2 separate regions of the Homo sapiens genome follow, and region 2 is linked to region 1. The links come from fine-mapping of genetic effects on gene expression. A gene starts in region 1. The other region holds a variant in brackets. All regions are shown on one strand. Distances are between the middles of the regions. Region 1 holds the start of PTER (phosphotriesterase related). Region 2 overlaps PTER (phosphotriesterase related).

Region 1 (5,377 bases):
GTGCACTGGCATGATCTCAGCTCACTGCAATCTCCACCTCCCAGGTTCAAGCAATTCTCATGCCTCAGCCTCCTGAGTGGCTGGGACTACGGGCATGCACCACCACACCCGGCTAATTTTTGTATTTTTAGTAGAGATGGGGTTTTACCATGTTGGCCAGGCTGGTCTCCAATTCCTGGCCTCAAGTGATCTGCCCACCTTGGCCTCCCAAAGTGGTGGGACTACAGGCGTGAGCCACTGCGCCTGGCCTGAAGTCATTTTTTAACAAGGACCTCATGTATCATTTAACATCTAGCAGCATAGACTACTAAAATACGTAACATTATAAATAATGGACTTTCGAGCCTCTCCTTACCACCCACTGTCGGGTACACATTTATATGGCTCCATGCTTGTAGCACACACAAAGTGGGAGCCAGCACTGAAATCACTCCAGAAGCCTCCCTGGATCCATCTCCTCATTACAGAATCTCAGTGTGAGCCCGTCATTGCTACTAATATCCAACTGTCCCAGCACTCATGCCTCTGCAGTTCTTAACCCCTACAGTTATTCTTGTCTTTCCTACTCTTGGGCCCTATTTTTATCCCTTTTCTGTTTCTAGGATTTACCCAGCCACCCTCCTTAAGAACCAATTTTTTCCTCAGTATCTTCTCCCTGACTGTCCCTTACCAACCAACCCCTTTTCTAAATGACTTCTTGTACTTTTACCCTTAAAAAACAAAAAACAGAGAACGAGACCTGTATATCCTTTTCTCCTCCTTTTTTTCTGATTTAAATGAATTAATTTATTTCTATTAATCTCCTATCAAAGCACCCCATTCTCTCCTGGTGCGGTGGCTCACGCCTGTAATCCCAGCACTTTGGGAGGTCAAGGCAGGTGGATCAGTTGAGGTCAGGAGTTCGAGACCAACCTGGCCAGCATGGCAAAACCTCATGTCTACTAAAATTACACAAAATTAGCTGAGCATGGTGGGGCGTGCCTGTAATCCCAGCTACTCAGGAGGCTGAGGCAGGAGAATCCCTTGAAACCAGGAGGTGGAGGCTGCAGTGAGGTGAGATTGCACCACTGCACTCCAGCCTGGGCAACAGAGCAAGACTCTGTCTCAAAAACAAACAAACAAACAAACCAAAAAAATTCCCCATTCTTTACTAAGAAGGCAAGTGTAGTGACTGATATCAACTAATCTGGGTCCCTAGTCCTATCCTTGAACAAGGTGCTTGCCTAAGTTTGTTTTCTTGTCTGTAATTGGAGGGAAATAGCTCCTGCCACATGCAGGTTGCTCAAAATCTTAAACAAAATAACATACACCCATTACAAAACCTGGTAGAGTTGGCCCCGATAAACATCATCTATTAATATTATTATTAAAACTCTACTTTCCTTTGAAATGACATCTGTAGCTTCTGCCCATCTGCATACCTATTCTCTTTTTTCTCAGAATTCAGGATAAAATTAATTGACTAGGCCTTGTGCTGTGGCTTATGCATGTAGTCCTAACACTTTGGGAGGCTGAGGTGGGAGGATCCTTTGAGCTTAGGAGTTTGAGACCAGGCTGGGCATCATAGCGAGACCTCCATCTCTACAAAAATTACAAATATTAGCTGAGTGTGGTGGTGCACACCTGTAGTCCCAGCTGCTCAGGAGGCTGAGGCAGGAGGATCCCTTGAGCCCAGGAGTTCAAGGCTGCAGTGAGCTATGACTGCACCACTGAAATCCATCCTGGGCAACAGAGCCATTTCAAAATAATAATAATAATAATTGATGACAGTGTAATATGGTTGGGGTTCAGAAAATGATACCCCAAAATGAAGGCCTTAGAAGCAGCTCTCTCTAACCTCATGTCCTCCTGCCTCTGGCCCCTCATTCTAGAAACTGGAATCCCTCTTCCCCAAGGTGATTCACAGAAGCCAGAACCCCTCATCCCCAAAGCCAAGCATAAAACCTAAAAGTTTGACTCTGCGTGTCCCCTGCCTTTCTGTGTCAAAACTGGCGGTAAAGAAATTCTCTGCCCTGCTTTGTTTGACTGTAGGTCATAAGACCCCCATTCCAGAAAGGATCCTGCTCTATACCCAGAAGGAAGGAACACTGCACAGAAAAGCCAAAAAGAATCTAAACAGACAGGGCTTGCTCACTTAGTCTATTGGCATTAGCTCAGACCCTTTTTATGCCATCGTAGTATCTCTTAGGTTGGTGCAGAAGTAATTGCGGTTTTTGCCATTAAAAACCGCAATTACTTTTGCACCAGCTGAATACATGGCGGTCCATACTTTATTGAACCTAAGCGAAAAAATGGACCGTTTCCCCTGCATCTTTGGGTTTTCATTCTGAAGGCTCCCGGATCACATAAAGTTACGATCTAGTATATTTGTATGCCTTTTCTACTGTGAAACTGTCTTTTGTCAGTTGATTTTCAGCAAACTTTCAGAGGACGAAGGAGAGGTTTGCCCTTGGCCCCCTACAATACCTAAAGGTATGACTCTTTACTGTGGCAGCTGCTCCAAGCATCATGTTTTGCCAACAGACTCACACATACTAAGTTTATTTCAGTCACAGCAAGTACCAGGGCCAGTTCAAGTGCTCTAGCACGGCACTCTAATTCTAAAGAGAAGGAAACGCGGCACCGGGGCAGGAAACAGTGACAAGTGGGAACACAAAAACCAAAGTTCTCCGTATGCAGCATGAGGATCCAGAACCCACTGTGACATCAAATTGCCAGAGCACCACCTCCGATTTATTCTTGGGGAAAACCAAAAGAGCTACGGAATGCTCCCTTGTTCCAGACTGTTCTATGGAGAACTGGGATCTGGGGAAAATGCAACAGTTTCTTTCCGTTTGGGGATCTAGCCCCGAATTTTTTTCATTCAGCCAAACTACCGACAGTCAGACAGCGCCTGCAGGAGGGTGTGGCCAGGCAAAAACGCGGGGAACGGCCCCGGACCAGGGTGGGGCGTGGCAAGGGTTTGAAGGGCGTGTCCTACGAAGAGGTAGGGCTTGGCAAGGACCCACGGGGCGTGTCCTAGGACTCGGTGAGGGCGTGACCTCGGGCCAGGGGCGGGGAGAGAACCAGAGGGCGAAGTGGGAGGGCACAGGGGAGACTAAAAAGGCCAGGGAAGTTGGCCTGCCGGAAGTTCCCAGGGAGAAGGCAGCGCGTTGTACCCGAGGTAAGGCTTCTTGGAGTCAGAGCAGGAGCCGGAACTGTGGGCCCAGTAGGAAGAGTGGGGCCCGACGGCGGAGGCCGCGCGGCCAGGGTTCGCTGCAGAGCTCCACGCGAGGGTCCTGCCGGAAGGAAGGATTTTCTAGCCGCTGCGCTTGGGCCCTGCCGCCTCTCCTTAAGTGCTTGAGGGACGTTGCAAAGAGCGCCAGTCCCGTGTGGCGCCAGCTCCCTGTGGCTCGACAGCAATGCCCGGGGGCGTCATCGGGTAGCTGTGCTAAGCCTCCTTTAATAAGCTTTTTTTTTTTTTTTTTTTTAGATTCAGGGTCTGGCTCTGCTTCCCAGGCTAGAGTGCATTTGGCGCGATCACAGCTCACTGCAGCCTCGACCTCCTGAGCTCAAGCGAACTTCCTGCCTCAGCCTCCTGAGCTTCCTGAGTAGCTGCGACTACAGGCACGTGCCACCATGTCCGGTTATTTTTGTATTTTTTGTAGAGAGTGTCTCGCCATGTTGCCCAGGCTGGTTTCGAACTCCTGGGCTCAATCAGTCTGCTGCCTCGGCCTCCCAAAGTGCTGGCATTACAGGTCTATATTTTTTGACAGTTTATAAAAGCCAATTACCAGCGGTCATATGTCTGAGTCCTGTGCACTCTTGCTTAATCCACTCTGCAGCCCTGTGAAGGATTCTAGTGATAACGACAAAGCTAAGGTACAGAAAAATTAGGCCACACTGCTGGAAAGTTTAGAGATGGAAACAAAGTTTAGAGGTGGAGTCTTTCTGACTCCACAGCCAGTGTGCTGTTACTCTCTTAGACTACCTCATTCTTTGTACATCCCAAGTCAACAGGAACTAAAGGTATACCCTTACATAGGCAGTAAGAGGGGTTGCTGATTTAAAGAACTTTGGACCCAGAAAGAGTAGAGCCCTATTCTAGTTCTGGTTCCAGCTCAGTGACTTTCTACAAGTTGGTTTTCTTTTGCTTTTTTTAAAGACAGAGTCTCGCCCTTGCCCAGGCTGGAGTGCAGTGGTGCGATCTCGGCTCACTGCAACCTCCGCCTCCCGGGATCAAGCGATTCTCTTGCCTCAGCCTTCTGAGTGGCTGGGACTACAGGCGCGCTCCACCACACACAGCTAATTTTTGTATTTTTAGTAGAGACGGGGTTTCACCATACTGGCCAGGCTGATCTCGAACTCCTGACCTTGTGATTCACCCACCTCGGCCTCCTAAAGTGCTGGGATTACAGGCGTAAGCCACCGCGCCCGGCCTCTTGCTTTTTAAGACTAGGTCTCATTATTTCACCAAAGCTGGAGTGCAGTGGTGCTATCACAGCTCACTGCAACCTTCACTTCCCCCGTTCAAGTGATCCTCCCAGCTCAGTCTCCCACAGGTGCACACCACCACGCCCGGCTAGTTTTTATTTTCTGTTTTTTGTTTTTTTTTTTGTATTTTTGGTAGAGACGGGGTTTTGCCATTTTGTCCAGGTTGGTGTCAAACTCCTGGGCTCAAATGATCTGGCTGCCTCGGCCTCCCAAAGTGCTAGGATTACAGGCGTGAGCCACTGCGCCTGGCCTGCCTGTTTTCTAGACACATTAAGGTGAGTGGTCTCAGGCCAGGCGCGGTGGCTCACACCTGTAATCCCGGCACTTTGGGAGGCTGAGGCAGGTGGATCACTTGAGGCCAGGAGTTCGAGACCAGCCTGGCCAACATGTGAAACCTCTTTTCTTCAAAAAATTAGCTGGGCATGGTGGTGGGCATGCCTGTAATCCCAGCTACTGGAGAGGCTGAGGCACGAGAATTGCTTGAACCTGGGAGGCAGAGGCGGCTGTGAGCTGAGATCACACCACTGCACTCCAGCCTGGGTGTCAGAGCAAGACTCTGTCTCAAAAAAAAAAAAAAAAAAGGTAAGTGGTCTCTAGGTCGCTAGTGGATGTAATAATCTATGGATTTATGAGGATAAGATCCTGATTTTACCATTTAATGATATTTTGGGCCAGTTTTTTTCCTTTTTAATTGGGCAGCCCTCAAACCAGAATAGATTGAGAGGGTCTTCCAGTTTTGGGTCATATTTGCTGCTGAAATTACAAGGTAGTCAGGAAGGGTCTGTTTATTCAATCAAAGATCAATAAATGTGTATTTTGGAGGTCAGTAGCGGAGTATCCAGCCAGAAGGTGGCTAGTGAGACAGGAGGAAAATCAGGACAGTGGCTTTTCTGGAGGGACTTAG
Region 2 (5,377 bases), 43 kb after region 1:
GCCTGCCTTGGCCTCCCAGAGTGCTGGGATTACAGGCATGTGCCACCATGCTGGGCCTAGAGTTTTCTTTTAAACTTTGAAGGATGTGAACTGGAAATTCATTCTGTCTTTCGATAGATAGATAGATAGATAGATAGATAGATAGATAGATAGATGGATGTCTGTCTGTCTGCACATGCATGTAAAATACACATTTTATTTTATTTTTTTTTTAGAGATGGGGTTTCACCATGTTGGCCAGGCTAGTATTGAACTCCTGACCTCAAATGATTCACCCACCTCGGCCTTCCAAAGTGCTGGGACTACAGGCGTGAGCTACTGTGCCCAGCCTAAAATATACATTTAAAAATCCATTGTGCAAGTATAGCTTTCATTGTTTGTTAGTGATCTATAGGTGGTCAGTAATATCCATTTCAAGCTAAAGGAATCACTGATGCATGGATGCCATCTGGAAGTTATCTGGTCAACCCCTTCATTTCACAGATGGGAAAAACAGGTGTGGAGTGGTTAACCAAGTTGCCCAAACCCACACAGCTATTTAGTGAAGAGCCATGGATTCTTACCTCTGAACCCATCATTTTACCAACTAGACCACACCACCTCAAGAATAGCCTTCCAGATGAAACTATGAGAGGAATATAGATATTTTACATGTTTAAAACATTTGTCTGTAGTTTGCCAGGACTTAAAAGTAATACAAATTTTAAGTGCTTTACTGATCAAATACAGCTAAAGACCAGTTGTGCAGCTGGCTCAAAGTATCACTGTTTCTGGGAGGCAACCTATGACTAGGGTTTCATGGGACAGAAAATCCCCTGTAGAAAAAGCAGAGGACAGACTTCAACGTGGAGAGTTCTTCATGAAGAAAAGCAGGTGATAACCATTGTATTCAAATAACTTGGTGTATGTTTCACTCTCAGGAATATATGTTGCTAGTAAAATCAAGAATTTTACATCAAACATTCTCAAGGCATTGAGTGTGGAACCTTCTGAGAATGAAAAGGGCAGAGATGAGATCTCGTTTTTCAAATTAAGTAAAATTTAAAGGTCAGTTATTCCGACAGTGTCTTGACAATAATATTGCACTTGTCCCAACTCTAGGATGTTACTATAGTGAGTAATGTTGCACTTCGATCTGGGTTGAAATACTGTTTTCTTCCTCCCTCTCCCTTTTCCTCCCTCGTTTCCGTTTTTTTTTTTTTTGGAGTTGGAGTGTTGCTCTTGTTGCCCAGGCTGGAGTGCAATGGCACGATTTTGGCTCACTGCAACCTCCGCCTCCCGGGTTCAAGCGATTATCCTGCCTCAGGCTTCTGAGTAGCTGGTATTACAGGTGCCTGCCACCACAGCTGACTAATTTTTGTATTTTTAGTGGAGACGGGGTTTTACTATGTTGGCCAGGCTAGTCTCGAACACCTGACCTCAGGTGATTTGCCTGCCTCAGCCTCCCAAAGTGCTGGGATTACAGGCTTGAGCCACCGTGCCCAGCCCCATTTAAAAAAAAAAAAAATGTTTTCAGTTGGCCACTAAACAGAGAAATTTGGGAAGCCACTGGTACCAGTTACAAGTTTGTAGACCACAGTCTACACAAAGGCCATCTGCTCAACCCTGGTGACTTGAGGTTGACTGGCCCAAGTTAAACTGAAGAGTTAATGAAGCCACAAGCCGATTTTTTTTATTCAAGGAGTCTGATGTGTTTTCTGGGTTTTCAAATGGCTTCAATGGATTTACTTACCAGTTTAAGATGAACACCTCACATCAAGGAATGCAGGATGGCAAAAGCCTGAGCTGACCCAGAGGAGGAGACCTTTCCCAGGCTGACCTGTCTGCAAAGGCCTTTTCCCAGCACTGTCACTTCCTGGGTTCGTCACTGCCATAGTCCTCGTAATTGTTTAGAATTTGCACATTTCCTCAGGTTTTCTTCTTACATTCTTAGTCAATTTGAAAAAAAAAAAGGAAAGCTTGGGAATGAAACCCAACATTTTCCTCCAACGACAAGCTGCTCATTTGTGTCTCTGAGCAGTTTTGCTTTATTTATGTCACAGTTTAAAGAACTTGCTGGGTCCCATTATTGCTCTGTATCCTTAAGTGGTGGGATTTCTTTCTTTTCATTCAGGCATGGTTACTGATTCTTTTGACAGTGTTTAATATTAAAAGTTATAAATGCACATGCAGTAGGGCCATTACACCATAAATAGCTGAGAGAGTAGAAGCATGATGACTGTGTCCAAGGAGGGACTCCTGGTGTCACCGTTGGTCAGTGTCCAGGCCCAGGCTGCTTCAAAGAAGATATATTGCAGGTCTGAACCTGTATGCACAATGGAAGTATTCAAACAAGCTTTAAAAAAAAAAAGGATGCATTTAAAAAATATTTTTGTGACAAATCAAATGTCAGTGTTAAGTGCAGTGTTTCTAGAGTGCAGCCGCGCTCTGTGATGTAACACTTCAAAAAATAGAAGTGCTGATCTATTTGGGCCAGACAGCACTTTTTTCTTAGAAGTCCATTTATTTGGAGGATACTTTTATAGTACCAGCAAGTCCAGTTAGAAAGTTCCATCTGCTCTGCCTCTTACTGCTTCTGGTTTCTTGCCATCTACACTGGTGTCATCTCAGACAAGACACTACCTGATTTTTTCTGGATAATAGCGACATCCTATGGGGCTCCCTGCAGGTACAACGGGCCCCCTCCCTTCATCCATTCGTACACGGCTGCCAGGCTCTTCACTTCATATTGTCTGCAAAAAACCCTGAGATGC[C/G]TTCCCGTTTTTTTGTCAGTTAGGGTTTCTTCAGAGCCACCAAACTATTAGGTTGGTGCAAAAATAATTCTGGTTTTTACCATCACTTCATTTTACTCATAGTATTAGGTTGGTGCAAATGTAATCACGGTCATGGCAAAGACCGTGATTACATTTGCACCAACCTAATACTATGAGTAGAATGAAACAAGGGATGTATGATAAGAATTAGACCTTTCATGGTTGGGGGAGGAGTTGGGAAAGTCAACTGAAAACTGATCCACCAAAACTCAGTTTTGTAATTTGACTATAGCATTTTTTTTTTTTTTGAGATAGAGTCTCGCTCTGTTGTCCAGGCTAGAGTGCAGTGGCGCAATCTTGACTCACTGCACCCTCCACCTCCCAGGTTCAAGCAATTCTCCTGCCTCAGCCTCCCGAGTAGCCTCCCGAGTGATGACAGACATGTGCCACCAGGCCCAGCTAATTTTTGTATTTTTTATAGAGACAGGGTTTCATCATGCTGGCCAGGCTGGTCTCGAACTCCTGGCCTTAAGTGATCTGCCTGCCTCAACCTCCCAAAGTGTTGGGATTACAGGTGTGAGCCACTGTGCCTGACCTAATTTGACCATTGCATTTAAAATTGTTAGACGAGTACCTTCAACCAGGTCAAGGGCTGGGTATAACAGAGTCCGGGGTGGGAGAAGAGCCTATGTTTATGAAATAAGGACAGTGTATTTCAGTTAAGAGAAGCTCTCCTCATTCACAGGTAAAATAGAGTCCTGGAAAGTCCTACCCTCTGCAATTCAAAATGCCACTGAAAAATATATTCAATCTACATAGACGGAATCATCTTAAGTATAATGGCCAGGGTGAAATAGCTGTGAGGAACTCTCAGTGAAACTAAACTAAAATTGCCCCCAAACTACCGTCCTGCACACCAAATCTTCAACAATTAGGTGAATTGTCTAAGTATTTTGTAGAAGTTGATTTATGCATATGGTTTTAGAATACACATATTTTAAACATGCGTATTTTAAATAAGACAAATCCTATTTATCGTTTCTGGCTTTCAGCTGTGCTGGAGGACTGTCCTCTGATTCTCTTCTCTTATCCCTTTTATTTTTTGTCTTTAAACCCTCTGTGCTTTTTCAGTTCTAGATGCATCAGAATTAGAAATGTTGTTCCCCTTGGCTAGGCTGTAATAGTAATTGCAGTCTATCCTCAGTCCTCAGATTGTTCAAATTTCACATTTGAAGTGCAACAGAACTTTTGACCCATGTGTTTGTAGCTCTGGCTACCCACTTTCTCACTAGCTTCTGTGCCGGTGTATGTGAGTGATGCTTAAGCCTCTCAGGCATACTCTGGAAAATGCCAGAAGCCTGCTTTGTTTGTTGGTAACCAGTCCTGTTTGCACCATTGGGTATAGCTGCTCTCATCGTTCCTTACCTTCTTCCTTGTTCTGTGAACTCTCTTCTCTATGGGGGAAGGCCATGAATAACCTCTTGCCTGTATGTTGAGAAGAGAGCAACCTCCAAGCTGAATGCAGAGGGAAAAGGGCTCCCTCCCTGCACAGGAAGCGTGTATTCTAGATACACACTCCACCCCACTCAAAGACATTCCAGCTTAGAGCAATGTTGGCTACAGTTTGTTCTTTAATCGTTTCTTATCCTTTGAGTGGAGGTTACATTGTGTGTGATCATAGGAAGTGCCAGCCAGTTCTGCCTGAGAGCATTAGAGGAATCTCCCAGAAGGGATGACATTTCTTAAGTGATTTTTTTTTCAGAAAGACTCACAGCTTGTGAGCTTGAAACGTACCAACATTGCTCTTTCAAATATGCATCAATTGAATATGCAGTTTGGTACTTTTCTAGCAAAAGTGGTAGCATTTTATCAATTTAGCTCAGTTTCTGCCCCTCTGTGACTCTCTGGAACACGTCTGTAAGATGGTCAGCCAGAAGGAAAGAAACGGCAAATTAACCCATATGGAAGCTTGCATCTATTATTAATGGTACTGTGATTTCATCAACGGAAGGCATGAACTACACACTCCTTGCTCTCAGTAGCAAGGAATAAGACACTGAACAGTAAATTCCTATCCATCATCATTGGAAAATATTGCCCTGTATAGTGCCTGGCAGCTGTGTGGTGATTCTCTGAAGAGACACTGCCTGCTTTTCTCTTAGCCACCATTTGAATTGCCTAGCTGATAGAAGTTTGGCTTCCAGAAAGGCACTATCAAACAAAATCAATGGCCATGTTAGCCACAAGTCCTAAGTTCTGTCCAAAAGTCTAAATCCATCATTTATGCCTTATAAGCCAATATATCGCAAACACCTGAGTTCCAGATAATTGCAGTGGCTTGCTATAAATTGGCCTACAATTCTGTCACCCTCTGACCTCTGATGTTGTTTTCACCTTGTCTTACGTGTGTACTATACCCTTCACAAATTTTCCCCTTTGTTCCCCCAAATCATCTCCCCTCTCATCAGCCACTTTCTCTGAAAAGAAATAATCTAGGATATACGTGAATAGTTCCTAGAATTCGCAAAACAAAGCTACTATTTGTTGAATATGGTCTGCGTGCCAAATGCATCTACAGGTATTTTTACCTGTGGTATCTAATTTATTTTTACGACAGTCTATGA

Evidence for each region. PIP is the estimated chance that this variant, and not a neighbour inherited with it, causes the effect. A credible set is the group of variants that fine-mapping cannot tell apart.
Region 2: its variant is the best candidate, but not a certain one, in a credible set for the expression of PTER in testis (GTEx, PIP 0.84).

Annotation. Positions count from the first base shown.
Region 1 is chr10:16,433,885-16,439,261 of GRCh38, forward strand. It overlaps PTER (phosphotriesterase related), which reads left to right and starts at 3,126. Exons shown (of 5, transcript NM_001261836.2): 1 at 3,126-3,163. RefSeq lists a silencer at 3,001-3,050 and enhancers at 3,471-3,650, 3,671-3,720.
Region 2 is chr10:16,477,147-16,482,523 of GRCh38, forward strand. All of the region lies in intron 1 of PTER (phosphotriesterase related), which reads left to right. Among named protein-coding and RNA genes, the nearest start is that of C1QL3, 42 kb to the right of the region's middle. The variant C/G (reference allele first, on the strand shown) is at 2,754.